Homo sapiens: one gene and its partners. The protein of the gene in region 1 purifies or fractionates together with the protein of each later gene. This does not show direct contact. Each region holds a gene or a part of one and is shown in the gene's direction. Other genes may lie near its edges.

Region 1 (7,000 bases):
TTTTCTACCCTGAGGGAGTATGGGAATTTGTATTTGACGCAAGTGGTCATTGTTCAATAAGTGGATAACATTTAAGCATCTTGGCAGGAGTGCATAGCTGGAGTTAGCACTGTTCATGGCTTGAATAGATCTCCAGACCCTCAAAGTATGTGGGTATAGTTGTGTTTGCATTGAATTAATAAGTTCAGACAGTTTTATTTATTTATTTTTGAGACAGAGTCTTGCTTTGTCGCCCAGGCTGGAGTGCAGTGGTGTAATCTCGGCTCACTGCAACCTACGCCGGCTGGATTCCAGCCATTCTCATGCCTCAGCCTCCTGAGTAGCTGGGATTACAGGCGTGTGCCACCAGGTCCAGGTAATTTTTTGTAAGGCGTGATCAGACTGGGTTTCACCATGTTGACCAGGCTGGTCTCGAACTCCTGGCTTCAGGTGATCCGCCTGCCTCAGCCTCCCAAAGTGCTGGGATTACAGGCATTGAGCCACCGCACCTGGCCCTGATCTGGTGAAACCTGGTCTCTACTAAAAGTACAAAAATTAGCCGGGCGTGGTGGCGCCTGCCTGTAATTTCAGCTACTCAGGAGGCCAAGGCAGGAGAATCGCTTGAACCCACGAGGCAGAAGTTGCAATGAGCCGAGACTGCACCACTGCGCTCCAGCCTGGGTTACAGAGTGAGACTCCACCTCAAAAAAAACAAAATCAAAGGTCTTCTAGAAAATGTTTGGAACCCACGTCTTTTTTTTTTTTTTTTTTTTTTTTTTTTGAGATTGAGTCTCGCTCTGTTGCCAGGCTGGAGTATAGTGGCATGATCTTGGCTCACTGCAACCTCCGCCTCTTGGGTTCAAACGATTCCCCTACCTCAGCCTCCTGAGTAGTTGGGACTACAGGTGTGCGCCACCATGCCTGGCTAATTTTTTGTATTTTAGTAGAGACGGGGTTTCACTGTGTTGGCCAGGATGGTCTTGATCTCCTGACCTTGTGATCCGCCTGCTTCTACCTCCCAAAGTGCTGGGATTACAGGCGTGAGCCACTGCACCCGGCCGAGAACCACATCTTAAGTCAATGGAGAGGATTCCTGTAATCCCAGCACTTTGGGAGGCCGAGGTGGGCAGATCATGAGATCAGGAGATCGAGACCATCCTGGCTAACACGGTGAAACCCCGTCTCTACTAAAAATACATAAAATTAGCCAGGCGTGGTGGCAGGCGCCTGTAGTCCCAGCTACTTGGTAGGCTGAGGCAGGAGAATGGCGTGAACCCGCGAGGCGGAGATTGCAGTGAGCCGAGATCGCTCTACTGCACTCCAACCTGGGTGACAGCGAGACTCCATCTCAATAAATAAATAAATAAATAAATAGGATTGCCACATTTTGCCATTTATATTGAGGCTTCAATAGATGTGGCAAGTTTATGAATTCATTAATTCAGCATCCACTGTGTGCTGCTACACTCAGTGCTAGATGTAGGATTGAAGAGCTAAGGTAGAAATCTTTGCCCTCAAAGAACTTGGTCCTTTTGGTTAGAGGTGGGTAAACAAAACGTCATGAGGCAAGTACAGTGATAACTGATAACTCTGCTGTGAGAGTAGTCTGGGGAAGGAGGAATTAAGGCTTTCTAAAAGAAGTTGACATCTCAGCTAAATTAGAAGAATGAGTAAGAATTAACCCAGGTTTACATAGCTTTCTCTTCTGCCGGCCTGCTTTTTCCAATTCCATTGCTGCTCCATAGAATTTTAATAAATGGATTTCAGTCACGTTTCAGGCTTTTTTTTTTTTTTTTTTTTGCTAGAGGAGGTACCAGAGAAAGTGACAGTCAAACACAAGCTAAAAATTCAAAGTATTTTCTGTATCATAATCTAAGGAATTAGTGTATGAGAAGGAGATACATACCTGATCTGATCTGTGGTGGGTCTTTTCCTGGTCTCCTTCCCAGTGCATCTCGTAATATCCTTGCCCTTTTAATACTAGACTTTGGCTTAGAAACAGTACTTGCTAGTCTTAAAATAGAAGTAGATTTACCTTGGTGTATTGAGAAGTGTACCTGATTTGGAGGCAAAAAATCTGGTTTTGAGTTTGGCTCTTTCATTGTAGTAGATATCTTATCTTAGACTAACCATGCAACTGCTTCAGGCATTGGTTATCCCTTCTCTGAAATGTAGGGTCTAGACTCATTTATTCAGTGACCTTCTTGAATTATAATTGCTTATGATTGTCTTTTGAGATTTGTGTTATTCTTGCAAGTGGAGAGGAGGGATTTACAGAAACCAGTTAATGTTTTCTTTGTCTGATGGTAAGTGACATGTTCTGTGGTGGCTTATTGATATTAGAAGATACTAACATGGGGCAGAGGCAGAGGCAAAGCAGCAGTTTGCTCATATAAGCTACTTCTGGTTTTTGGCTTGTTAATGTTAGATTCAGCCACAGAGACAGAAGCACCTCTCTAACTTCAGTGGTGAAGACTGTATAGTTAGTTGTGAGATAGTGGGAGACCATAAAATAAGGTTGCCATGGTCATTTGCTGGCTTGTTCTGGGTGATGATACAGTTAGTTCATTATGAGATATGAGGGAAAGTAAGTTCTGGAATAAACTCCCGTGGTGCTGTGGTGAGACACAATCTATTTTTACCTAAGGAATAATACTTTGAGCTAATATAATAGGAAAGTAACTAGTTCCTGATTATTAGCCACGCATATGACTTTAAGCAATGGATAAACTGCAGCTGAGACTTACACGGATGAGATATTGCAGGATCCCAAGCGACTTCTGAATTCTCAAATGGCTTCCAGTTCTTTGGCTTGCTGCCAACCAAAGGAATTTTTCAATCTCCTGTAGCTCAGCTGAAATTTGAGAAAGTTAAACTATTTTAAGTGCATTTGAAATTTGTTGGTTTTTACGACTTTTTTTTTTTTTAATTTATTTTTTTAGACAGGGACTTGCTCTGTCACCCAGGCTGGAGTGTGATCTTGGCTCACTGCAACCTCTGCTTCCTGGGTTCAAGTGATTCTCATGCCTCAGCCTCCCAAGTAGCTGGGATTACAGGTGTGTACCACCACACCTAGCTAATTTTTGTATTTTTAGTAGAGATGGATTTTGCCATGTTGGCCAGGCTGCTCTTGAACTCCTGACTTCAAATGATCCATCCACCTTGACCTCCCCAAGTGCTGGGATTACGGGTGTTAGCTACTATGCTCTACCATGATCTTTATTAACTAATAATTGTTTTGTACTTTTTTTTGAGACAGAGTCTCTGTCGCCCAGGCTGGAGTGCAGTGGCGCAGTCTCGGCTCACTGCATCCTCCACCTCCTGGGTTCAAGTGATTCTCCTGCCTTAGCTTCCTGAGTAGCTGGGATTACAGGTGCGCGCCATCACACCCATCTAATTTTTGTATGTGGGGTACAGGTGGGGTTTTACCATGTTGGCCAGGCTGTTCTCGAACTCCTGACCTCAAGTGATCCACCCATCTCAGCCTCCCAAAGTGCTGGGATTACAGGCATGAGCCACCACACCTGGCCTGTTGTGTACTTTTTTGAGCCCACTGTGTGCTGCCTGACTTTATAAGACATTGAATTTTGTTAATAGAATGTAAACTCCATGAAGGCAGAGATTTTTGTTTATTTTGTTCACTGTGGAATTGCTAGCACCTAGAATACTGCTTGACAGACAGTAGGCAGTCTGTAAATTTATTTGTTTGTTTGTTTGTTTGTTTGTTTATTTATTTATTTTTGAGATGGAGTTTCACTCTTGTCGCCCTGGCTGGAGTGCTAGTGGCACAATCTCAGTTCACTTCAACCTCCGCCTCCTGGATTCAAGTGATTCTCCTGCCTCAGCCTCTAGAGTAGCTGGGACTACAGGCGTGCACCACCACGCCTGGCTAATTTTTGTATTTTTAGTAGAGGCGGGGTTTCACCATGTTGGTCAAGATGTTCTCAATCTCCTGATCTTGTGATCCGCCTGCCTTGGCCTCCCAAAGTGCTGGGATTACAGGCTTGAGCCACCGTGCCTGGCCTGTAAATATTTATTAAATAAAAAGTGTGTTGGACTTTGGGAATCAATTTGAAGATAAGTTTTAGGATTAATATAGATGGCATCACAACTCACTTACAGCATTCAAAGCTGCCCTCAAATTATTTTGCAGGGATGTATAATTGAATTGAAAATAATTCTGTAATTTCCTTTCAGATGGAATAGCATTGACCCAGTTTACAAAGCCATCTGAAGTGCCTGAGTTGTATTTGAAGTACATATTGATACTGAGGATTAGGGTTGGTATGAAGGCCAAAGAGGAACAACATCTGTAGTCAAATATTATTATTAAAAACTTATGATTATAAGAGCAAGACATAATTAAATGAGAAATTTGGAAAAATATAGAAAAGTAAAAAATCACTCATAATCTTATTAGTGGAGACAACCCCTTTTATTTTATTTTATTTTATTTATTTATTTTTTTGGGGGGAGAGAGTGTTGCCCTGTTTCCCAGGCTGGAGTGCAGTGGCACAATCTTGGGTCACTGCAACCTCTGCCTCCCGGGTTCAAACAATTCTGCCTCAGCCTCCCAAGTAGCTGGGATTACAGGTGCATGCCATTATACGCAGCTAATTTTTGTATTTTGGGTAGAGGTGGGGTTTCACCATGTTGGCCAGGCTGGTCTCGAACTCTTGACTTCAGGTGATCTGCCCACCTCGGCCTCCCAAGGTGCTGGGATTACAGGTGTGAGCCACCGCGCCTTGCCACTTTTTTAAAGAGGTGGGGTCTTACTCTACCTCCCAGGGCATGGTCATGGCTCACTACAGCCTTGACCTCCTGGGCTCAAGCAATCCTCCCACCTCAGCCTCCCAAGGAGCTCGGACCACAGGTGTGTGCCACCACACCTAGCTAATTTTTTTGTAGAGATGGGGTTTTGCCATGTTACCCAGGCTGGTCTCGAACTCTTGGGCTCAAGCCACCTGCTCACCTTGGCCTCCCAAAGTTCTGGGATTACAGGCATGTGTCCCAGTGTGTAGCTGTGATAACCACTTTTAACATTTTGGTGTATTTCTGTCCTGATTTTTTTTTTTCTGTGGATTTTAATATTAGTGGTCATACATTTTTGTAACATAAAGTCAGATTATGTACCTAGTTTTGTATCTTGCTTAATTTGCTACCTAAGTATCTGCCATGAAAAGTACTTTTTTTGGCCAGGTGTGGTGGTTCATGCCTGTAATCCCAGTACTTTGGGAGGCTGGGGCAGGAGGATCACTTGAGTCTAGGAATTTGAGACCAGCCTGGGCAACATAGTGAGACCCCATCTCTAATAAAAATTAAAAAATAGTTTGCCAGGAGTGGCAGTGCATGCCTGTAGTCCCTGCTACTCAGGAGGCTGAGGCCGGAGGATTGCTTGAGCCCGGGAGGTCAAGGCTGTAGTGAGACCTGATTGTGTGATTGCACACCAGCCTGGGTGAAAGGGCAAGACTGTCCCCCAAAAATAAAAAGAGATACTTTTTTTTTTTAAAAAATTGAGACGGAGCCTCGCTCTGTCACCCAGGCTGGAGTGCAGTGGCACGATCTCAGCTCACTGCAACCTTGGCCTCCCGGGTCAAGCAATTCTCCTGCCTCAGCCTCCTGAGTAGCTGGGATTACAGGTGCCCTCCACCACGACCGGCTAATTTTTTGTATTTTTAGTAGAGACGGGGTTTCACCATGTTGGCCAGGCTGGTCTCAAACTCCTGACCTCAAGTGATCTGCCCACCTCAGCCTCCCAAAGTGTTGGGATTACAGGCGTGAGCCACCACACCCAGCCAAGAGATACTTCTTGAATAGTTTTATTCTGTATCTACTTGAAATATAAGTGAACTTTTTGTTTATTTGGAATGCTTTTCTTGGGAATATTTTTTCACCTTTGGCTTTTAGCTTAGAAGTTATGACTGCACATTACAAAGGGGAATGTTCAAACCTTTATCAGTAAGTCAAACATCTTTTGAGTTATTGTTCCTGTAATGTTTTGCATTATTTGCAAGATTAAAACTCAGTGTAACATCACAAGTTTTTTTCCCATACAATTATTTACATTTCTTTATTATCTCTTTAAGTTCATCTTTATATGTTCAAGTATACTAAGTTTTTAAAAAAGGCTGGGAGCCAGAGTCCTAATTTTTTTTTTCTTTGTGACGGAGTCTCACTCTGTTGCCCAGGCTGGATTGCAGTGTTGTGATCTTGGCTCATTGCAACCTCCACCTCCCGGGTTCAAGCGGTTCCCCTGCCTCAGCCTCCTGAGTAGCTGGGATTACAGGCACCCGGCACCACGCCTGGCTAATTTTTGTATTTTTAGTTGAGGCAGGGTTTCACCATATTGGCCTGGCTGGTCTTGAACTCCTGACCTTGGCCTTCCAAAGTACTGGGATTACAGACGTGAGCCACTGCACCTAGTGTATTTATATATTGGCCAGGCTGGTCTCGAACTCTTCATCTCAGGTGATCCATCTGCCTCAGCTTCCCAAAGTGCTGGGATTACAGGCGTGAGCCATCGCGTCTGGCATTTAGTTGGTTTTCAGGAAGTGTTAGTATCATGAGGAGTGATTGAAGGAAGGAGGAAAAGACCACAGGGATTCATGCGGGATGAGGGAAAGAGGATTGAAGTGTGGGAACAAACATAATTTTGGAATAAGGAGAGAAAATTAAGTGGGAATAGAAAATGAACACAGCCAGTTTTAAACCAGAATACTATTTTTACATTGAGAATGGAAAGGACTGAACCTTGAAGGTTAAATGAGATGATTCCTGACCTTTTTTCTAGGTCCTAGTAATTAGTATGTAAGAAATAGAACTTGGTCGGAGAACTTGGCCAGGTGCAGTGACTCATGGCCTGTAATCCCAGCACTTCAGGAGCCCAAGGTGGGTGGATTGCTTGAGTTCAGGAGTTTGAGACCATCCTGGATGACATGACAAAACCCCGTCTTTACAGAAAATACAAAAATTAGCCAGGCGCGGTTGCACGTGCCTGTAGTCCCAGCTACTTGGGAGGCTA
Region 2 (11,204 bases), on another chromosome or scaffold:
ATGCCTGTAATCCCAGCACTTTGGGAGGCCGAGGTGGGCGGATCATGAGGTCAAGAGATTGAGACCATTCTGGCCAACGTGGTGTGAAACCCCATCTCTACTAAAAGTACAATAATTAGCTGGGCGTGGTGGGAGGCTCCTGTAGTCCCAGCTACTCGGGAGGCTGAGGCAGGAGAATCGCTTGAACCCAGGAGGCAGAGCTTGCAGTGAACAGAGCGAGATTGCGCCACTGCACCCCAGCCTGGCGACAGAGCCAGACTGCGTCTCACAAAAAAAAAGAAATTCCTGAGTTTTCCCTCTAATAGAAGTATTCTTCTTTCTTTTATGTTAAGAAAGCTTTAATTGACATGTAGTTCACATGCCTGAAAACACCCCTTTAGAGTGGTGAACTGGTTCAGTGGTTTTTCGTGTGTTCAGAGTTATGCAGCCACCACCACTCATTTCAGAACGTTTTCATCGGCTGGGTGCGGTGGCTCCCCCGGGGTGGGAGGGAGGATAGCTTGAGGCTAGGAGTTTCAGACCAGCCTGGGAAACACAGTGAGACCCCATCTCCACAGATAATTTTTAAAAGATAGGAAAAAGGCCGGGCACGGTGGCTCACGCCTGTAATCCCAGCACTTTGGGAGGCTGAGGCGGGGCATCACAAGGTCAGGAGATCGAGGGTTTAGTAGAAACCCCGTCTCTACTAAAAATGCAAAAAATTAGCCAGGCGTGGTGGCGGGTGCCTGTAGTCCCAGCTACTCGGGAGGCTGAGGCAGGAGAATGGCGTGAACCCGGGAGGCGGAGCTTGCAGTGAGCCGAGATTGCACCACTGCACTCCAGCCTGGGCAACAGAGTGAGACTCCGTCTCAAAAATAAATAAATAAATAAATGTTTTTGTCACCCTACAAAGAAACAACATACCTGTTAGCAGCCTCTCCGCCCAGCTCCTGGCATCACGAATGTCTATGATTTCCCTATTCTGAACACACAGCTGGAATCGGATACTATGCCACCTTCTGTGTTTGACCTCCTTCACGGAGCACAGCGTTCCCACAGCTGGTCCACGGTGCTGAGTGTCAGCAGTAATCTCTTGTTGGGTGGACCCCGTTTCTTGGCCTCCTTCCTCTGTTGATGGACATCAGGGCAGTTTTCCCTCAGACTCCTCGAGTAGGGCAGGACTTCTTGAAGGTTATGGCTACAGGACACCCCACTGTCTGAAGTGGTTTACCCAGCCCCATTGGTGTGCCTTTAGGGCCCTCAGGACCCTGGCCTGCAGCCTGCAGTGTGGACCCTGGGACTGCTTGTGCCCAAGTGTGGCGGGCAGGGCGGCTCCTGGAGGTGGGATCTGGGTCAGAGTTACTTCATGCATGTCCAGTGGCTTCCAGTAGACGTGGTGCCGGCAGTTCTCCAGCCTTAGAACCGTCTTCCATCCTGAGGGCTGTGGCTTTCATCACTGCACATGCTCGTGTGTGAACCAGGCATGCACACTGAATCTTTCATTGTGACGTTGATCTTTGATTTAAACCTTTTCTCATATTTTCACTGTCCAGAATGTCACCCCTTCCCCCTTTTTTTTAAACAGGGTGTTGTCACAAATTTTGAAATTTTCCGAATGAGGGAGAAACAGGTACCTGTGGATGTGGTCGAGATGAAAGGCAAGTTGTATTTTAGTCACTTTGAGGCGAATGGGGCCTACGTGCTGTTTTACTCTTGGCTTTAACACTTCCATGCGAGGGGTTGTCTGAGCAGCTGAGTCAGGACTGTGAGCCCTCACCATGAATAGTCATCTCCAGGTCACAGAACGTGTTTAGAGCCTGGGCAACATAGTGAGACCCTCTCTGTACAAAAAACAAATAAAAAAAATTAGCCAGGTGTGGTGGTGCGCACCGATAGTCCCAGCTGTTTGAGACGCTGAAGCGGGAGGATCACTTGAGCCCAGGAGCAGAGGTTGCAGTGAACTGAGATTGCGCCCCTGCACTCCAGCCTGGGTGACGGAGCAAGACCCTGTCTAAAAAAAAGAGAAAAGAGATTGAGCCTGTGTTCTTGTTTGGCTTTTTGTTTTGCCATGGAGAAAAGGAGGAAGGAAGGGTTAAAAATAGGTGAGAAAATGGGAAACATGGCCGCCCTTCCAGGCAGGGAGACCGGAGGTCAGGATCCCACTGTAGGTGCACACTGGGTGCGAGGGAAGCGGCATCCACAGCTGCTGACAATGTCGGGCTCCTGCGGTCCTGCTGTGGGTGTCCTGCTCTCAGGAAGGGAGCAGTTTCACGTAGGTCACTCCACACAAGTGGAAGCAGCTGTCTCTGAAACTCCAGGAATGTGCACCTTTCCTGCTGTTGCTTGCTCTCCCGTCCTTTTAATGAACTTTTACACGTCGGGGGATATTTCTCTGTGGTTGAATAGTGAACATTTTAACTGATCAAGAGCACTATGTTCTGAATTGACCAAAAAGGGAGGGGTCTGTTTTGTGCATTTTAGAAACCATCATAGCCTTTGCCTGGGAACCAAATGGAAGTAAGTTTGCTGTGCTGCACGGAGAGGCTCCGCGGATATCTGTGTCTTTCTACCACGTCAAAAACAACGGGAAGATTGAACTCATCAGTAAGTAACCTGGTCCCTTTCCTCTTCTGAGTAGGTCAGCACAGATGATGACCCAGTCGCTGCCCAACAGTGAGCATTTGACTGGCCTAGGACCACTGCTGGGCAGGCCGGGACTCGCCTATGAATGGGGTGTGGCCTCGGCTGATGGAAGTGAGCGATGGCCTGGAGGTGCCGCCTCCTTGCAGGGTGTCTCTCTGAGCCCCGTTGAGCCCTCACGTTTAAGCGAGTATTTCCAAGGCTTCCATTCTCTGCCATCATCTCAAGTGAAGCTTTTTCTCTTCTGGCTGTAGCTGCTGTCCCTGGGCTTGGGGTCACTTCCTGTGGACATACTCCTGCCAGTCCCCAGTCTGGGTCAGGTGCCTTTGACCAGGGTGCGCAGAGCTGTTGCACACAGCTGTACTCTGCCCCCGTGCACCCGGTTCCAGGGGTGCCACACTGCACCCACCTGGGGCTCGCTCCTCACAGTGGTGCGTGGGCCCTCGCCTGTCTCACGGCACCTGCTGCCTGTGCCCTCAGCTCCTCACTTCATCCTGGGGTCTCTGCTCAGCACAGAGCCCGGTGCCCGCGGGGATTGAATGAGCCATTGCTTGTTGCTTCATAGGCGTGGGGTGTGTGTGTGTGGTAGCCAGGAGGTGGCGATGGGCTGTGTTCCTCACACAGGACTCTGGCTGCCAGCTGCCCTCCTGCAGAGCCATGGGTTTGGCTCTGTACCAGGAAGGGGTTGGAATCTCCTGGCCGCACCTTTCGCAGCATGATTCTGTGAGGAGTTTAGTTTTCACTTTGCTAGAGCTTGGCAGGGTGCGTGGTGCCCTCAGTTGGCAGTGGATTACAAGATTGGCTGTTTCATTAATTCTGGTTGATAGAAACATATGGGCAATTGCAGACTGTCCAGAGACTTGTGTAAGTCTTCTAGGTCATAAAACATAGGCAAGCAGAGGCACCTTGTACCTTCCAAACATGCTGCGTGACACGCCTCTCCTGAGGTTTGGCATGGACGCTGGGGCCACCGCATGGGCTCCATCCCATGCCCGTGGCTGTTGGGGTTTTCGCTTGTGCAAGTCTGAGACCCCTGCCCCTGCCAGGGTGCACTGCCCTCCCACATCTCCTCCCCTCCTCCCCACGTCAGCCTGCCCCATGCCTCTTTTTTGGATGTACCACAGGCTGAGGGGAGAGAGGCCACAGGTTGTCAGCTCTGTTTGAGATGCAGGGAGCATATGCTCTGAGGGGGACTTGAGCCAGCCCCAGCTGGCCTTCACTTCTCACTGTTCCAGCGGCTCTGCCCGAGATCCATTCCGGAAGTAAGAGTTAGTACCTGCAAAGATGATGACTGTAGTCAGTTTCAACAAGCATACAGCTTATCCAAAGACGCCTTGTCGCTAGGAGAGTGGCTTTGGTCTTTTGGGGTCACACGTCTCTGACATCTCTCTGTTGGGGTCCCTGCAGCAGTGAACATTTGCTGTAAAGGGAATTCTTTGTCCAGTTACCTCAGGAAATAAGATAGTATTGTTTTGAAATACCCCTGTCGCATCTTCTTTTTTTTCCCATTTAAAGTATGGATCATGACTTAGGGGGTACTTGGCGATGGACTTTGTAAAATTGTTTTCCGAGGTGGTCCAGCATTACCAGCTCTGCCCTCATGGGCAGCATGAGCACGGCCAAGTCCTCCAGCCTTGGCTGCCCCGGCACTGTGGAAGCCCTCGCAGCTCGTGACAGGCGCGCTCTTTCCTTTCAGAGATGTTCGACAAGCAGCAGGCGAACACCATCTTCTGGAGCCCCCAAGGACAGTTCGTGGTGTTGGCGGGCCTGAGGAGGTAGGTGTCTGCGCTCTGAGCCTGTCCGCCCTGTGAGTAGCGCTCTGCTGTGGCAGAGACCCCTCAGGCGCCTGCACCCGGCTTCTTGGTAGAGAGAGTATTGTGCGCTGAAAGGGTTGCCCCAGTGTCAGTGGATAGGACTTCATTGAACCTCTGCAGACCCACGGTACTCCAGGACTCAGGCCAAGCCCGCACAGAGTGAAATAAGCGCTCCCAGATGCTTTCGTGAAGTGACCAGGCAGACCTGTCTGCGGGTTGTGGTTCTCTGTGGTTAAACAAGTGCCTTCCAGCCATCCAGTAACCTCCCCCCGGGGGTCAGTCCCTTGTCTTCTAGTGGGAAGGGTATTCGTTACACAGCTGTGAGGCTGCCTTACCTTTGTGGTTGGTGTCACGGTGTCGGTCTCAGCTGTGTTCCAGCAGTGTGTCGAAATCATGGAGAAGCTTCCAGCTTTCTGCTCTGAGTTAAAAGAATACCCTTTTGTTGCTGCTCTCCCTTGCTTCATTGTCCACACTTGCTACTGTATTTTTGGAGGCTTACTTAGCCTCAGATAACATTTCCAGTAAAAATAATATGATGGCAGTCATATGTAATACTCACTGCACACTCTGCATCTGTGATTTGGTAAGTCTCACAGCGGCCACCAGAGGCTGTTGCTGTGCTTGTTTCCATGTTAACGCCGAGGCTGGCTCCCTGGGGACCCCATGCCGCAGCACCTCTCAGGAGTGGGATGCCAGGAGGTATGCGTCTCCATGAAGCCTGACGGTCCTGTCTGTCTTTGCAGTATGAACGGTGCCTTAGCGTTTGTGGACACTTCGGACTGCACGGTCATGAACATCGCAGAGCACTACATGGCTTCCGACGTCGAATGGGATCCTACTGGGCGCTACGTCGTCACCTCTGTGTCCTGGTGGAGCCATAAGGTGCAGGCCTGTGGGGCATAGTTTTGACTGTGGATAGAAGCAGGGAGTGCTGGCTAGCTGCTGACTCTGGTGCTGTCCTGGGACCTCAGGGAAGGGGCACCAAGCCTCTGTGTTGAACAGAAGCCTTGGCTGGTGTTAGTGGCAGGAGGAGGAGGATTCTGGGTTGTAGAAGAGGTGGCGCCGAGTGCAGGAGCAGCCCCTGCTCATGGTTGCGGGGAGGTGGGGGGTCTTACCCTGGGCCCAGGGACCCCTGAAAAGGAGTGAGAATGTCTGCAGAGAGGAGTCGTTTCCTTTGAAGTCTGAACAGAGTTCCATAACCGCAGACATTAAGATCTGTTTTGGGGTCAGTGGTTGAGTCCAGCTGCCGCGTTACCCACAACTCGTATTCCAAAACTGCTGGTTAAGTTTGTCAAGGACTTTCAGTATTTAGTGACTTGTAAAAACATTGATGGAGGCACTGATACTTGAACTAGTCCATGCCAATAGAGCCTGTGAAACCAAACGCGGGTAATTTTGTTTAATGAGATACAGAATTTGTAGGAATATCAACTTCCCAAATGTTACTGCAAGTGTCTAGAGTTAGAAATCTTCGCATTCGAATCAGGATATGTTGATCACAGCCTGTGTCCAGGTATGTTCAGATGTCACTGCGGTGGGGCCTGCCTTGACACTTGAAATCACTTTAGGCCAGGCACAGTGGCTCACACCTGTAATCCCAGCACTTCAGGAGGCAGAGGTAGAAAAATCACTTGAACCCAGGAGTTTGAGACTAGCCTGAGCAACATAGCGAAACCCTAGCCCCATTAAAAAAAAAAAAAAAAAAAAGACTTTTTAAGCTGTTGACCACTCTCCTTGAGTTATGAACACTTAGCTTCCAAAATGCCGGCCTGCAACAAGGAGTTTATGCTGAGTGCCAGTGAAGGCGCCCTCCTTCATGAGAGAGGCCTGCCATGAGGAGAGCGGAACTAGGCGGCGTGTAGTGATGCAGTTAGCTTACATCCAGCACAGGGCTCCGCACAGCTCACACCCGGCCCAGGGCTCAGCAGTGAGTAGTGCTATGCAGTTAGCTTACGTTTGGCACAGGGTTCAGTCCAGTTTAAATCCAGCACGGGGTTCAGCGGCGCAGTAGTGAGGCAGTTAGCTTACATCCAGCATGGGGTTCTTATTGCCAGCCAGAATGTGCAGGCCTGTGCTGTGATGAGCGCTGCTCCAGCTGCTCCGTGCCCCGCACTCCGGGTCGGTTGCATAATGGAGGTGTCTTGCATTGACTGCCCACCTACCCTGCTGTCAGCTCAGCACAGGCAGAGCTTTGTTTGCTTCACACGTGTCCCCGATACCCAGGACCTTGTTCAGCAAGTGACATAGTCACGGTTGTGGCTCTCTGACCCCTCTGTGTCCTGGTGTGTCCCTGCCCTGGCCTAGGTGGACAACGCGTACTGGCTGTGGACTTTCCAGGGACGCCTCCTGCAGAAGAACAACAAGGACCGCTTCTGCCAGCTGCTGTGGCGGCCCCGGCCTCCCACACTCCTGAGCCAGGAACAGATCAAGGTCAGCATGCCCCCACCCCCGGGTGCAGGGCACATGGAGGCAATTGTGGCGTTGAAAAGGTGTCAGTTTTTTCTGTTATTGTTAGGGTGGTGACTGGGGGATAAAAACGTGACATTTGCAAGGATTCTTTGAAGAGACGCAGGAACAGTGAGAACTGAATGGAATAGAACAGCTTTAGGATAGTAACTTGAGGCTTTCAGCTTCTTTAGGGAAGTTTTGCATGAACCCGAGGGGTGGATAAAAAGATGCCAGGGCCATTAAAAAGTCCTGCTGGGATTAGAAGCGGCTTGTCTGGGATTTACATTATTGTGGTAAAATAGGCCGTTGGTCTTAGGTCAGAGCAAAGAGGAGGGTTAAATCCCAGGGAGAAAGTCCGTCTCAAAGTGAAAGATGGAGGAAGGAGCAGGCACGAGCGCTCCTGGGATGCTGTGTTGTGTGAATGACCCTGGGTGTCAAGGAGGAAGGAGCAGGCACGAGCGCTCCTGGGATGCTGTGTTCTGTGAATGACCCTGGGTGTCATGGAGGAAGGAGCAGGCGCGAGCTCTCCTGGGAATCCGTGTTCTGTGAATGACCCTGGGTGTCAAGGAGGAAGGAGCAGGCGCGAGCGCTCCTGGGATGCTGTGTTCTGTGAATGACCCTGGGTGTCATGGAGGAAGGAGCAGGCGCGAGCGCTCCTGGGATGCTGTGTTCTGTGAATGACCCTGGGTGTCATGGAGGAAGGAGCAGGCGCGAGCTCTCCTGGGAATCCGTGTTCTGTGAATGACCCTGGGTGTCAAGGAGGAAGGAGCAGGCGCGAGCGCTCCTGGGAAGCCGTGTTGTGTGAATGACCCTGGGTGTCGAGGAAGGAGAAGGCGCGAGCACTGCTGGGATGCCGTGTTCTGTGAATGACCCTGGGTGTCATGGAGGAAGGAGCAGGCGCGAGCTCTCCTGGGATGCTGTGTTCTGTGAATGACCCTGGGTGTCATGGAGGAAGGAGCAGGCACGAGCGCTCCTGGGATGCTGTGTTCTGTGAATGACCCTGGGTGTCATGGAGGAAGGAGCAGGCGCGAGCTCTCCTGGGAATCCGTGTTCTGTGAATGACCCTGGGTGTCAAGGAGGAAGGAGCAGGCGCGAGCGCTCCTGGGAAGCCGTGTTGTGTGAATGACCCTGGGTGTCGAGGAAGGAGAAGGCGCGAGCACTGCTGGGATGCTGTGTTGTGTGAATGACCCTCGGTGTCATGGAGGAAGGAACAGGCGAGCGTTCCTGGGATGCTGTGTTGTGTGAATGACCCTTGGTGTCATGGAGGAAGGAACAGGCGAGCGCTCCTGGGATGCTGTGTTGTGTGAATGACCCTGGGTGTCATGGAGGAAGGAGCAGGCGCGAGCGCTCCTGGGAAGCTGTGTTGTGTGAATGACCCTGGGTGTCATGGAGGAAGGAGCAGGCGCGAGTGCTGCTGGGAAGCTGTGTTGTGTGAATGACCCTGGGTGTCATGGAGAAAGGAGCATGCGAGCGCTCCTGGGAAGCTGTGTTCTGTGAATGGCTTTGGGTGTCATGTCATGTTGGCAACTCTGAAGATTGCATTTGTGCTTGTTGCTTTGAATGTTAAATCCTGAGTGATGGGTCTTTTGTTTCAGCAAATTAAAAAGGATCTGAAGAAATACTCTAAGATCTTTGAACAGAAGGATCGTTTGAGTCAGTCCAAAGCCTCAAAGGTGAGCCTCATTCCCAAAATGAGGGCTGTGCTGTGACATCCGCCATCATGGCAAAGGCGGGGCTGCGGGGAGCTGCTGTGTATGTGCTCAGAGTTGCCTCTGCTCCGAAGACACTGGTTCTGTTCCCCCCCAGGAGGGATGCACTGGGGAACTGGGGTTGGCACGGGGACTTGGAGTTGGTGACCTCACTGCTGCCTTGTGGGTGGGGGGCAGCGTTGGGGGAAAAGTGAGAATGAATGGACTAGCCATTCCTGCTTGAGTGCCTCTGTATGCTGTCCTTCTGGCACCGTCCGCCTGGGTGTGGGCTCTTCGCGATGGGGAGGCACTTGTCTTACCAGTTCTGTGCTTTCCCCAACCTCATGCATAGGAATTGGTGGAGAGAAGGCGCACCATGATGGAAGATTTCCGGAAGTACCGGAAAATGGCCCAGGAGCTCTATATGGAGCAGAAAAACGAGCGCCTGGAGTTGCGAGGAGGTAACTTAGAGATCCCTCAGTCCCCAGGAGCTGGCCCTTACGCTGCCCCTGGGCCCTGGTGCCCGCGGACTCCTGCGTTCCTTCCCACTGGCCTCGGCGGTGCCACTAGGCATGTGCCCCCATGGGTGATCTGCGCCCTTTGTCCCCTCAGGGGTGGACACTGACGAGCTGGACAGCAACGTGGACGACTGGGAAGAGGAGACCATTGAGTTCTTCGTCACTGAAGAAATCATTCCCCTCGGGAATCAGGAGTGACCTGGAGCACTGTGGTGAGCGTCTGCAGGGGGCGCGATGGGGGTCCTGTTGGCTGCTCATGCTGCTTCAGTTATCCCCGTCACTGAGGAAGCACCTCCTTTAAGGCAGGGGTGAAGGGTGAAGCCCTAGTGTCATGTGCCCAGGGTTAGCTGAGCCTCGTGTGAAATGTAGAGTCGGTGCCGACGTGGCCTCGACTGCGCCCTCTGACCACATTGCAGATGGCGCCTTTCAGGCAGTGCTGGGTGAGGGAGGAGCTGTGGCCAGGTGTTGGGAAGTGCCAGGAAGAGGAGGGTGGCCATGCCTGGCCATTTCCTGATACCTGTGCTAGTGACGGCCGCGGTGTGTCCACTGGAAAGAAACACTGGCGTGCACGGCTGTGACTGTGGTTTCAGCAGTTCTGAGACAAGAGCCTTCCAAGTCGGGGGCTGGGGAGCAGAGTGCGGGAGCTCCTGAGTCCTGGGGGCCTCCGCGCCTCACAGCATGGGCACATGTGGGACAGAAGGCCTAATGGGGTGCCTGAGGGTGGCCTGGTTGCTGTCCCCCCAGGGTGGGACCATGAGCGAGTAGGGGTGGCACACGGGCTCAGCTCTCTGTGGCCGGGGTGGCTCCTCTTGCGGGACTCAACGTCAGCCCCAAGGCGATGTTCAGGGGGTCCCTCAGCCTTTTGAGGTGGTGCCGTTTAGGGCCGCCATGCCTGTCTATCCAGGGGACGGACTCCGCCTGCTGTTCCCGCGCTGAGCTACAGGACTCCCGAGTGTGAGCCGCGGTTCCTCTGTTGCAGCGCAGCCGTGTGTGCTGTGGAGCCGAGGCCGTCCTGCAGGAAGCCGCGTGACTCCCGCCTCCTCCCTGTGCTCTCTGGCTCTGGACTGTGACTGCGCCTGGATTCTGCCATTGCGACACATTTTTGTGCCTTTCAGCCCCTGGTGTCTGCAGTGGGGGATTTAAGGCACCCGCTTCCACTTCTTTCTTGTTTGGAGTTTTCTGTTGGAACCGCCGGCGTTGGCTCCGAAGACTTAGCGACGCCACTGGCGGCACCTTCTCCTGCGCCCAGTGATGTTTCCACGGTGCCTGTACACAGCCGAGCAGCATTTCCGTTGAAGGACTTGCATCCCCATTGCGGGCAGTGCTGGACGTGTCCCGGAGACCCACCGGGAGGGCGCCGCCATGCCTTGTACCCCCACCGTGCAGGTTGTGGCCGGTTTTCTCCGCAGGTTGAACATGGAAATAAAAGCAAACTTGTATGAAAAACCGGTCTTTCTCCTCTCTTTGAATGTAGATAGAGACCTTGAACTTGGTGCCTGCCTCCCTCCCCAGTGGCAAGGGCCTGCTTGCCAAGCCAGACCTCTGCAGGGCGCTGTCCCGTCCGGTCGTCACGCACACTCGGCCACCCTGTGTCCAGCGATGCACTAGTCATGCCACAGTCTCTTCTGTTGCGTTGTTTTCTGTGAAAGATGCTGGTCATTTTCCCTGGTGAGAACCCTGTGACTTTTCCTTGGAGTTAGACACATTGGGAAACTTGTATTGAGAATGGTCAGTTCTGCCCGTTTTTTCATTTTGAGATGGAGTCTCGCACTATCACTCGGGTTGGAGTACAGTGGCGCAATCTTGGCTCACTGCAACCTCCGCCTCCCGGGTTCAAGCGATGCTCCTGCCTCAGCCTCCTGAGTAGCTAGGACGACGCATGTGCCACCACGCCCAGCTAATTTTTTGTACTTTTAGTAGAGACAGAGTTTCACCATGTTGGCCAGCCTGATCTCAAACTCCTGATGTGGTTTACCCGCCTTGGCCTTCCACAGTGCTGGAATTACAGGAGTGAGCCACCGTGCCCGGCCAGTTCTGAACTTGTTTCCTGTTGGGAAGGGAGCCCACAAATTGGGGTAATTTCAGCCCCTCCTGTTGACAGGGTGTCACTTCCCACT
Region 3 (7,886 bases), on another chromosome or scaffold:
GAAGGCGTCATCGAGGTGAGACTGGAGAAATGGAATTCTGTCCTCCCCCATTACAACTTTCAGCCGTATAGAGTTAGAGTGGCCTCTTGATTGATTTCCCAGATCATCTAGAAGCAGCTGGTTTCCCTAAAGGGAGGAGGGTTGTAAGCTCTGAGGCTTTTGTTAGTAGGCACCAGATTCTGTTTGCTCGGAGACTACAGCTCAGCTCCACCTTTTCCATGACTCAAGCTTTAATTTCTTTGCATCCCCTAGAGTAACTGGAATGAGATTGTTGACAGCTTTGATGACATGAACCTCTCGGAGTCCCTTCTCCGTGGCATCTACGCGTATGGTTTTGAGAAGCCCTCTGCCATCCAGCAGCGAGCCATTCTACCTTGTATCAAGGGTGAGACCTCTCAGTCCCAGAAGACATTGTGGACTGTCCCTGACCTGGGTAGAGTGGCATCTGGTTGGTGATGCCCATCTCATATCAGCCAGGGACAAAGCAACTCCTTGTTCATCCCAGCTTGGCTTTTGATCCGTGCCCATGCCTGGTTCATGCCTTGGACACATAGGTTTCCTTTAAAGAGGTGGTATTGTAGCCAGCTTATATTTGCATCTACAGCCATGTTTCTAGTCCAGCTTGGTGTGCAATACTAGATGAGTTAATAACTGGTCCTTGTTTCTGATCTGGTTCCCATTGTGTAACTGTGTTGATTGGGAAGGTAGTTTGTGAGCCATGAAATGCTTGGTTCATTGGTTGCTTATTGACCTCATTAACCTAGGACTTGAATATCCCAAAGGGTATGCTCTTTACCACATTCAACTCCTAATTTATTTGTTTAGGTTATGATGTGATTGCTCAAGCCCAATCTGGGACTGGGAAAACGGCCACATTTGCCATATCGATTCTGCAGCAGATTGAATTAGATCTAAAAGCCACCCAGGCCTTGGTCCTAGCACCCACTCGAGAATTGGCTCAGCAGGTAAGAGTGGCTTCTATTCCCTCCTTCAGGGCTGATTTAGGGATGATGAGTATAATCCAAGGACCAGAGAAGTCTTCTCTGATCACCACCTTGGGAGGAAGACATGGGTGCCCTAACACTCTCGAGACCTGCTGGGTTAATTAAAAGCTATTTCTTACCCAAACGTAACCATTGCTTCCTCCACCCATTTCCTGAGTCAAATGGGAAAGCTGTTGGGTGAAGCCTGGCTGGCTGGGCAAGTTTGACTGTGTTCTGAATAAGCACCTTCACTATGGGCTAAGAGATCCCTTGGTGTGGGGGTGATCTTACAGTAGTCAGAGCAGATGGACAGTCCTTTTCACCCTTGCTTAATAGCCAGAGCTGTTTCATGCCTGGGGCACACACAATTCTAATGCTGGACTTTTTCCTGGGTCATGCTGCAACACTGATGTCAGAGCATGTTTTTAAATGTTCTGTGGCAGGGGCAGTGATTATTCTGGGTGTGGATAATGTAAGAAGTTACAGCAGAGCTCCATTCTAAGGCACTTGGCTCTCAGTTTTCTCAGAGTGAACATGCCTCGTAGCTTGGGTCCTATGGCAGGAGTGCAATAGGACATGGATATGCATCACCTGTTCTATAAAACTGGTTGCTGGCTGGGTGTGGTGGCTCAACTCGTATAATCCCAACACTTTGGGAGGCCAAGGCAGGCAGATCTCTTGAGATCAGGAGTTGGAGACCAGCCTGGCCAACATAGTGAAACCCCGCTTCTACTAAAAATACAAAAATTAGCCAGGCATGGTGGCGTGTGCCTTTTATCCCAGCTACTCGGGAAGCTCAGGCAGGAGAATTTAACCCAGGAGGTGGAGGTTGCAGTGAGCTGAGATTGTGCCATTGCACTCCAGCCTGGGCAACGAGCAAAGCTCTGTCTCAAAAAAAGAAAAAAAAAATGGTTGCTGCGTGATGAGGCAGTTGGTCAAATTAGTTTTCAGAAGGTTAAGGGTTCTAAATATCTAGAGTAAAGAAACTGAATTAATTATCTGAGCGGCCTCATTGTGAATCACTGTACACTCAGGAACCAGACTGAGTTGAAATCCTGTCTTTGCCACCTATTGACAGCACGATCTTAAGTGGATTTTAGCCTCTGCCTGTTTCTCAGCTGAATGTGAGTTTAATAATAGTGCATGCCCCAAAGTTGTTGGTTAGGAATCAATACATGAAAAACATTTAAGAATGGTGCCGGGCACAGTGGTAACTGACATATGAGCACCTGCCTCTCTCTGCTCAGATACAGAAGGTGGTCATGGCACTAGGAGACTACATGGGCGCCTCCTGTCACGCCTGTATCGGGGGCACCAACGTGCGTGCTGAGGTGCAGAAACTGCAGATGGAAGCTCCCCACATCATCGTGGGTACCCCTGGCCGTGTGTTTGATATGCTTAACCGGAGATACCTGTGTGAGTAATTCGGTTCTCCAATCCCCTGGGTCACTTTGCTCTTGTGCACGCTTTCCAGTCTTTCAGCGTAAGCCAGAGTCATTCCCAAGGATGCTGGTTTCTCTCTGGGGGAAGAGCTGCTCTGTGATGGAGCCCATGCGTGTCATCTGAGCCTCTGGCTTCCCTGCCAGTGCAGCCCTGGCAGTGTCCTACTTCCCAGGGCTGTTGTCTGCCTGGCGGGAAGGTCCTGGGCAAAGGATCAGTCTTTGTACTCTGAGAGCAGACTACTTGGCTCCTCTCTGTTTTTTATCAGCGAAGTTGGATATATCTCTCCCACATTTCCCTAATCATATGCTATATATTGGCTTTTTTTTTCTTCTCTAGCCCCCAAATACATCAAGATGTTTGTACTGGATGAAGCTGACGAAATGTTAAGCCGTGGATTCAAGGACCAGATCTATGACATATTCCAAAAGCTCAACAGCAACACCCAGGTGAGGGCAGTCTTGCTTGAATAGCTAATGATTCTTGAAAAATAGTAAGTGCCAGGGGAACCATATACTGGATTCTTGAGCCTTTTTATGCATCTGCTTCAGTTTTAGGTGTGGCTAGGGAAGGGAGCAGGCCTCAGGAAGGAACCAGCACTCTAAGACTGGCCTTTTTTTCCACTAGGTAGTTTTGCTGTCAGCCACAATGCCTTCTGATGTGCTTGAGGTGACCAAGAAGTTCATGAGGGACCCCATTCGGATTCTTGTCAAGAAGGAAGAGTTGACCCTGGAGGGTATCCGCCAGTTCTACATCAACGTGGAACGAGAGGTGGGGCCCAGTGCAGGAGGCGGGCCTGGTAGTGAGTTGTTGGGTATAGCCCCTGACTGATTTTTGTCCCCCAACCTCCAGGAGTGGAAGCTGGACACACTATGTGACTTGTATGAAACCCTGACCATCACCCAGGCAGTCATCTTCATCAACACCCGGAGGAAGGTGGACTGGCTCACCGAGAAGATGCATGCTCGAGATTTCACTGTATCCGCCATGGTGTGTTTGCCCGCTGCCAGCCTGTTGTGGGTCTGCCCGTCAGAAGTGTCCTACTTGAAGCCAGGGTTCCTGGAACCCAGGTGCCTACCTGGTCTGCTGCATATTTGTTTTCTCTTCCAGCATGGAGATATGGACCAAAAGGAACGAGACGTGATTATGAGGGAGTTTCGTTCTGGCTCTAGCAGAGTTTTGATTACCACTGACCTGCTGGTGAGTAGAGGGAACTGATAGCAAAGGCAGAAGGGAGGATCCAAGGTGATTCCCTCTCCAAGGGGACATCAGTGCCTCTCAGGAAAGTAGCAGCTTGGAATAGAATCTGGCATGCCTAAGGCCTTTGGGGAACTGGGATGCTTATTTCCTCTGCCTTCCTTGGCTGCCCACATGGATGCCTAAGTGTCTTCCCTCCGGGATAGAGTGTCCTCCGTGCACATGCTGAAGAGTTGTCTTTCTTGACGTAGGCCAGAGGCATTGATGTGCAGCAGGTTTCTTTAGTCATCAACTATGACCTTCCCACCAACAGGGAAAACTATATCCACAGGTAAGCGTAGATCTGGAACACTCCCCTACCCCTTCACACCTGGCCCTCCCTGGGCTTAAAGCTCCTGATATTCCTCATCCCCTTCCTTGTTTTCCAGAATCGGTCGAGGTGGACGGTTTGGCCGTAAAGGTGTGGCTATTAACATGGTGACAGAAGAAGACAAGAGGACTCTTCGAGACATTGAGACCTTCTACAACACCTCCATTGAGGAAATGCCCCTCAATGTTGCTGACCTCATCTGAGGGGCTGTCCTGCCACCCAGCCCCAGCCAGGGCTCAATCTCTGGGGGCTGAGGAGCAGCAGGAGGGGGGAGGGAAGGGAGCCAAGGGATGGACATCTTGTCATTTTTTTTCTTTGAATAAATGTCACTTTTTGAGGCAAAAGAAGGAACCGTGAACATTTTAGACACCCTTTTCTTTGGGGTAGGCTCTTGCCCCAGGCGCCGGCTCTTCTCCCAAAAAAAAAAAAAAAACACTAATCCATTTCCCTAACCTAGTAACCTCCAGATCCCAGAGGCTCTCCTCACCTCAGCTGAGCTCCTTTGAAAGTGATTCAAGGGACTATGTCACTCAGCCTCATTTGCTGGACCAAATCTGGAGGGAGAACCCCTAAAACCCCTAAGTGAGGTTGCCCAGGGGGTTGTCCCCAGGTGGGGGGAAGCAGGGGAGAGAAAATGGTAGCCATTTTTACATTGTTTTGTATAGTATTTATTGATTCAGGAAACAAACACAAAATTCTGAATAAAATGACTTGGAAACTGCCTGTTTGGGCTTCTCATTTCTTACCTCCCCTTCCCTCTCCCACCTGCTACTGGGTGCATCTCTGCTCCCCCCTTCCCCAGCAGATGGTTACCTTTGGGCTGTTGCTTTCTTGTCACCATCTGAGTTCTCAGACGCTGGAAAGCCATGTTCTCGGCTCTGTGAATGACAATGCTGACTGGAGTGCTGCCCCTCTGTAAAGGGCTGGGTGTGGATGGTCACAAGCCCCTCACATGCCTCAGCCAAGAGGAAGTAGTACAGGGGTCAGCCCAGAGGTCCAGGGGAAAGGAGTGGAAACCGATTTCCCCACCAAGGGAGGGGCCTGTACCTCAGCTGTTCCCATAGCTACTTGCCACAACTGCCAAGCAAGTTTCGCTGAGTTTGACACATGGATCCCTGTGGATCAACTGCCCTAGGACTCCGTTTGCACCCATGTGACACTGTTGACTTTGCCCTGATGAAGCAGGGCCAACAGTCCCCTAACTTAATTACAAAAACTAATGACTAAGAGAGAGGTGGCTAGAGCTGAGGCCCCTGAGTCAGGCTGTGGGTGGGATCATCTCCAGTACAGGAAGTGAGACTTTCATTTCCTCCTTTCCAAGAGAGGGCTGAGGGAGCAGGGTTGAGCAACTGGTGCAGACAGCCTAGCTGGACTTTGGGTGAGGCGGTTCAGCCATGAGGCTGGCTGTGCTTTTCTCGGGGGCCCTGCTGGGGCTACTGGCAGGTAAGGAGGAAGGAGGCTGAGGGGAGGGGGCCCCTGGGAGGGAGCCTGCCCTGGGTTGCTAACCATCTCCTCTCTGCCAAAAGCCCAGGGGACAGGGAATGACTGTCCTCACAAAAAATCAGCTACTTTGCTGCCATCCTTCACGGTGACACCCACGGTTACAGAGAGCACTGGAACAACCAGCCACAGGACTACCAAGAGCCACAAAACCACCACTCACAGGACAACCACCACAGGCACCACCAGCCACGGACCCACGACTGCCACTCACAACCCCACCACCACCAGCCATGGAAACGTCACAGTTCATCCAACAAGCAATAGCACTGCCACCAGCCAGGGACCCTCAACTGCCACTCACAGTCCTGCCACCACTAGTCATGGAAATGCCACGGTTCATCCAACAAGCAACAGCACTGCCACCAGCCCAGGATTCACCAGTTCTGCCCACCCAGAACCACCTCCACCCTCTCCGAGTCCTAGCCCAACCTCCAAGGAGACCATTGGAGACTACACGTGGACCAATGGTTCCCAGCCCTGTGTCCACCTCCAAGCCCAGATTCAGATTCGAGTCATGTACACAACCCAGGGTGGAGGAGAGGTAAAGCTAAAACTGGGGGATGAGAGGGGAGGGAGGCAGGACTGGATATAGGCTCAGAGGGAAGAAGGAAGAGGGGACAGGGAACCTTGGCCGGCATCGCATGCAGTCTTGTGACCTTCCAGTCTTTAACTTCCGCAGGCCTGGGGCATCTCTGTACTGAACCCCAACAAAACCAAGGTCCAGGGAAGCTGTGAGGGTGCCCATCCCCACCTGCTTCTCTCATTCCCCTATGGACACCTCAGCTTTGGATTCATGCAGGTATAGCCATGACCTCAGTCTCACCCCTCACTCAGCCTCCCGGCGCCCCTCCCCTCCCAATCCCACACGCTACTCCTTCCTCTGTGGAGAGGGATACCACCTGCGCCTTCCTCTTCGCCCCACAGGACCTCCAGCAGAAGGTTGTCTACCTGAGCTACATGGCGGTGGAGTACAATGTGTCCTTCCCCCACGCAGCACGTAAGTAACCTCCTTCCCTTTCTCATTGCTACCACTAGACGCCAGGGTTCCTGAAAGGACTAAGCTGGGGCCAGGGAGGTGGATAGGATCTGACCCTTCCTCACTCCTCCAGAGTGGACATTCTCGGCTCAGAATGCATCCCTTCGAGATCTCCAAGCACCCCTGGGGCAGAGCTTCAGTTGCAGCAACTCGAGCATCATTCTTTCACCAGCTGTCCACCTCGACCTGCTCTCCCTGAGGCTCCAGGCTGCTCAGCTGCCCCACACAGGGGTCTTTGGGCAAAGTAAGACCTACCTACTCCTTCCCTCCTAGAATCCTCCCACTGCACTGAAAACCCCTTCCCCAGGCCCATAAGCCACTCATCTCTCTTCTTAACCCCCCAAATCTCGCTCTCCCAGCTTGTCATGGCTACAGGGCAGCTTTCTTTCCATCCTCTACAAGACTCTGCCAGTTTCCCCCTTTTATCACTGCTGAGTCACTGCGGTGAGCTCCTCACCAATCTCCTACTCCCCAGCATCCCCCCATTCCCTCCTCCCACCTTTATCCCAACCAGCACGTCACTGCAAATACCTACCTGCCCTATCCTTCCGCCAGGTTTCTCCTGCCCCAGTGACCGGTCCATCTTGCTGCCTCTCATCATCGGCCTGATCCTTCTTGGCCTCCTCGCCCTGGTGCTTATTGCTTTCTGCATCATCCGGAGACGCCCATCCGCCTACCAGGCCCTCTGAGCATTTGCTTCAAACCCCAGGGCACTGAGGGGGTTGGGGTGTGGTGGGGGGGTACCCTTATTTCCTCGACACGCAACTGGCTCAAAGACAATGTTATTTTCCTTCCCTTTCTTGAAGAACAAAAAGAAAGCCGGGCATGACGGCTCATGCCTGTAATCCCAGCACTTTGGGAGGCTGAGGCAGGTGGATCACTGGAGGTCAGGAGTTTGAGACCAGCCTGGCCAACATGGTGAAACCCTGTCTCTACTAAAAATACAATTAGCCAGGTGTGGCGGCGTAATCCCAGCTGGCCTGTAATCCCAGCTACTTGGGAGGCTGAGGCAGAACTGCTTGAACCCAGGAGGTGGAGGTTGCAGTGAGCCGTCATCGCGCCACTAAGCCAAGATCGCGCCACTGCACTCCAGCCTGGGCGACAGAGCCAGACTGTCTCAAATAAATAAATATGAGATAATGCAGTCGGGAGAAGGGAGGGAGAGAATTTTATTAAATGTGACGAACTGCCCCCCCCCCCCCCCCAGCAGGAGAGCAGCAAAATTTATGCAAATCTTTGACGGGGTTTTCCTTGTCCTGCCAGGATTAAAAGCCATGAGTTTCTTGTCACATGCCTTTCTATGCCTTCCATGGCTGGGTCTCAGGGAGCCGGAAGCAGCTGCTGAGGAGGGATGAAA

The links.
Region 2: the proteins of EIF4G3 (region 1) and EIF3B purify together in Homo sapiens (affinity purification with mass spectrometry; 3 studies listed by BioGRID and IntAct, with this or other methods). This does not show direct contact.
Region 3: the proteins of EIF4G3 (region 1) and EIF4A1 purify together in Homo sapiens (co-immunoprecipitation; 7 studies listed by BioGRID and IntAct, with this or other methods). This does not show direct contact.

Annotation. Positions count from the first base shown.
Region 1 is NC_000001.11:21,166,898-21,173,897, reverse strand, and holds part of EIF4G3 (eukaryotic translation initiation factor 4 gamma 3), read left to right. Parts: intron 1-5,858; exon of another isoform or gene 5,859-5,937; intron 5,938-7,000. UniProt on the Homo sapiens protein: Component of the protein complex eIF4F, which is involved in the recognition of the mRNA cap, ATP-dependent unwinding of 5'-terminal secondary structure and recruitment of mRNA to the ribosome. Functional homolog of EIF4G1.
Region 2 is NC_000007.14:2,370,213-2,381,416, forward strand, and holds the end of EIF3B (eukaryotic translation initiation factor 3 subunit B), read left to right. Parts: intron 1-1,564; coding exon 1,565-1,637; intron 1,638-2,460; coding exon 2,461-2,583; intron 2,584-4,315; coding exon 4,316-4,394; intron 4,395-5,176; coding exon 5,177-5,315; intron 5,316-6,737; coding exon 6,738-6,863; intron 6,864-8,476; coding exon 8,477-8,554; intron 8,555-8,921; coding exon 8,922-9,030; intron 9,031-9,181; coding exon 9,182-9,285; 3' UTR 9,286-9,299; intron 9,300-9,968; exon of another isoform or gene 9,969-9,991; 3' UTR 9,992-10,533; downstream 10,534-11,204.
Region 3 is NC_000017.11:7,574,294-7,582,179, forward strand, and holds the end of EIF4A1 (eukaryotic initiation factor 4A-I), read left to right. Parts: coding exon 1-15; intron 16-252; coding exon 253-385; intron 386-419; exon of another isoform or gene 420-554; intron 555-825; coding exon 826-965; intron 966-2,230; coding exon 2,231-2,399; intron 2,400-2,517; exon of another isoform or gene 2,518-2,665; intron 2,666-2,762; coding exon 2,763-2,872; intron 2,873-3,050; coding exon 3,051-3,194; intron 3,195-3,275; coding exon 3,276-3,413; intron 3,414-3,533; coding exon 3,534-3,623; intron 3,624-3,661; exon of another isoform or gene 3,662-3,798; intron 3,799-3,871; coding exon 3,872-3,951; intron 3,952-4,048; coding exon 4,049-4,193; 3' UTR 4,194-4,713; downstream 4,714-7,886. Other genes in the region: CD68 (macrosialin isoform A precursor), read left to right, coding at 5,385-5,433, 5,517-6,034, 6,173-6,292, 6,418-6,490, 6,603-6,773, 7,085-7,218. UniProt on the Homo sapiens protein: ATP-dependent RNA helicase which is a subunit of the eIF4F complex involved in cap recognition and is required for mRNA binding to ribosome.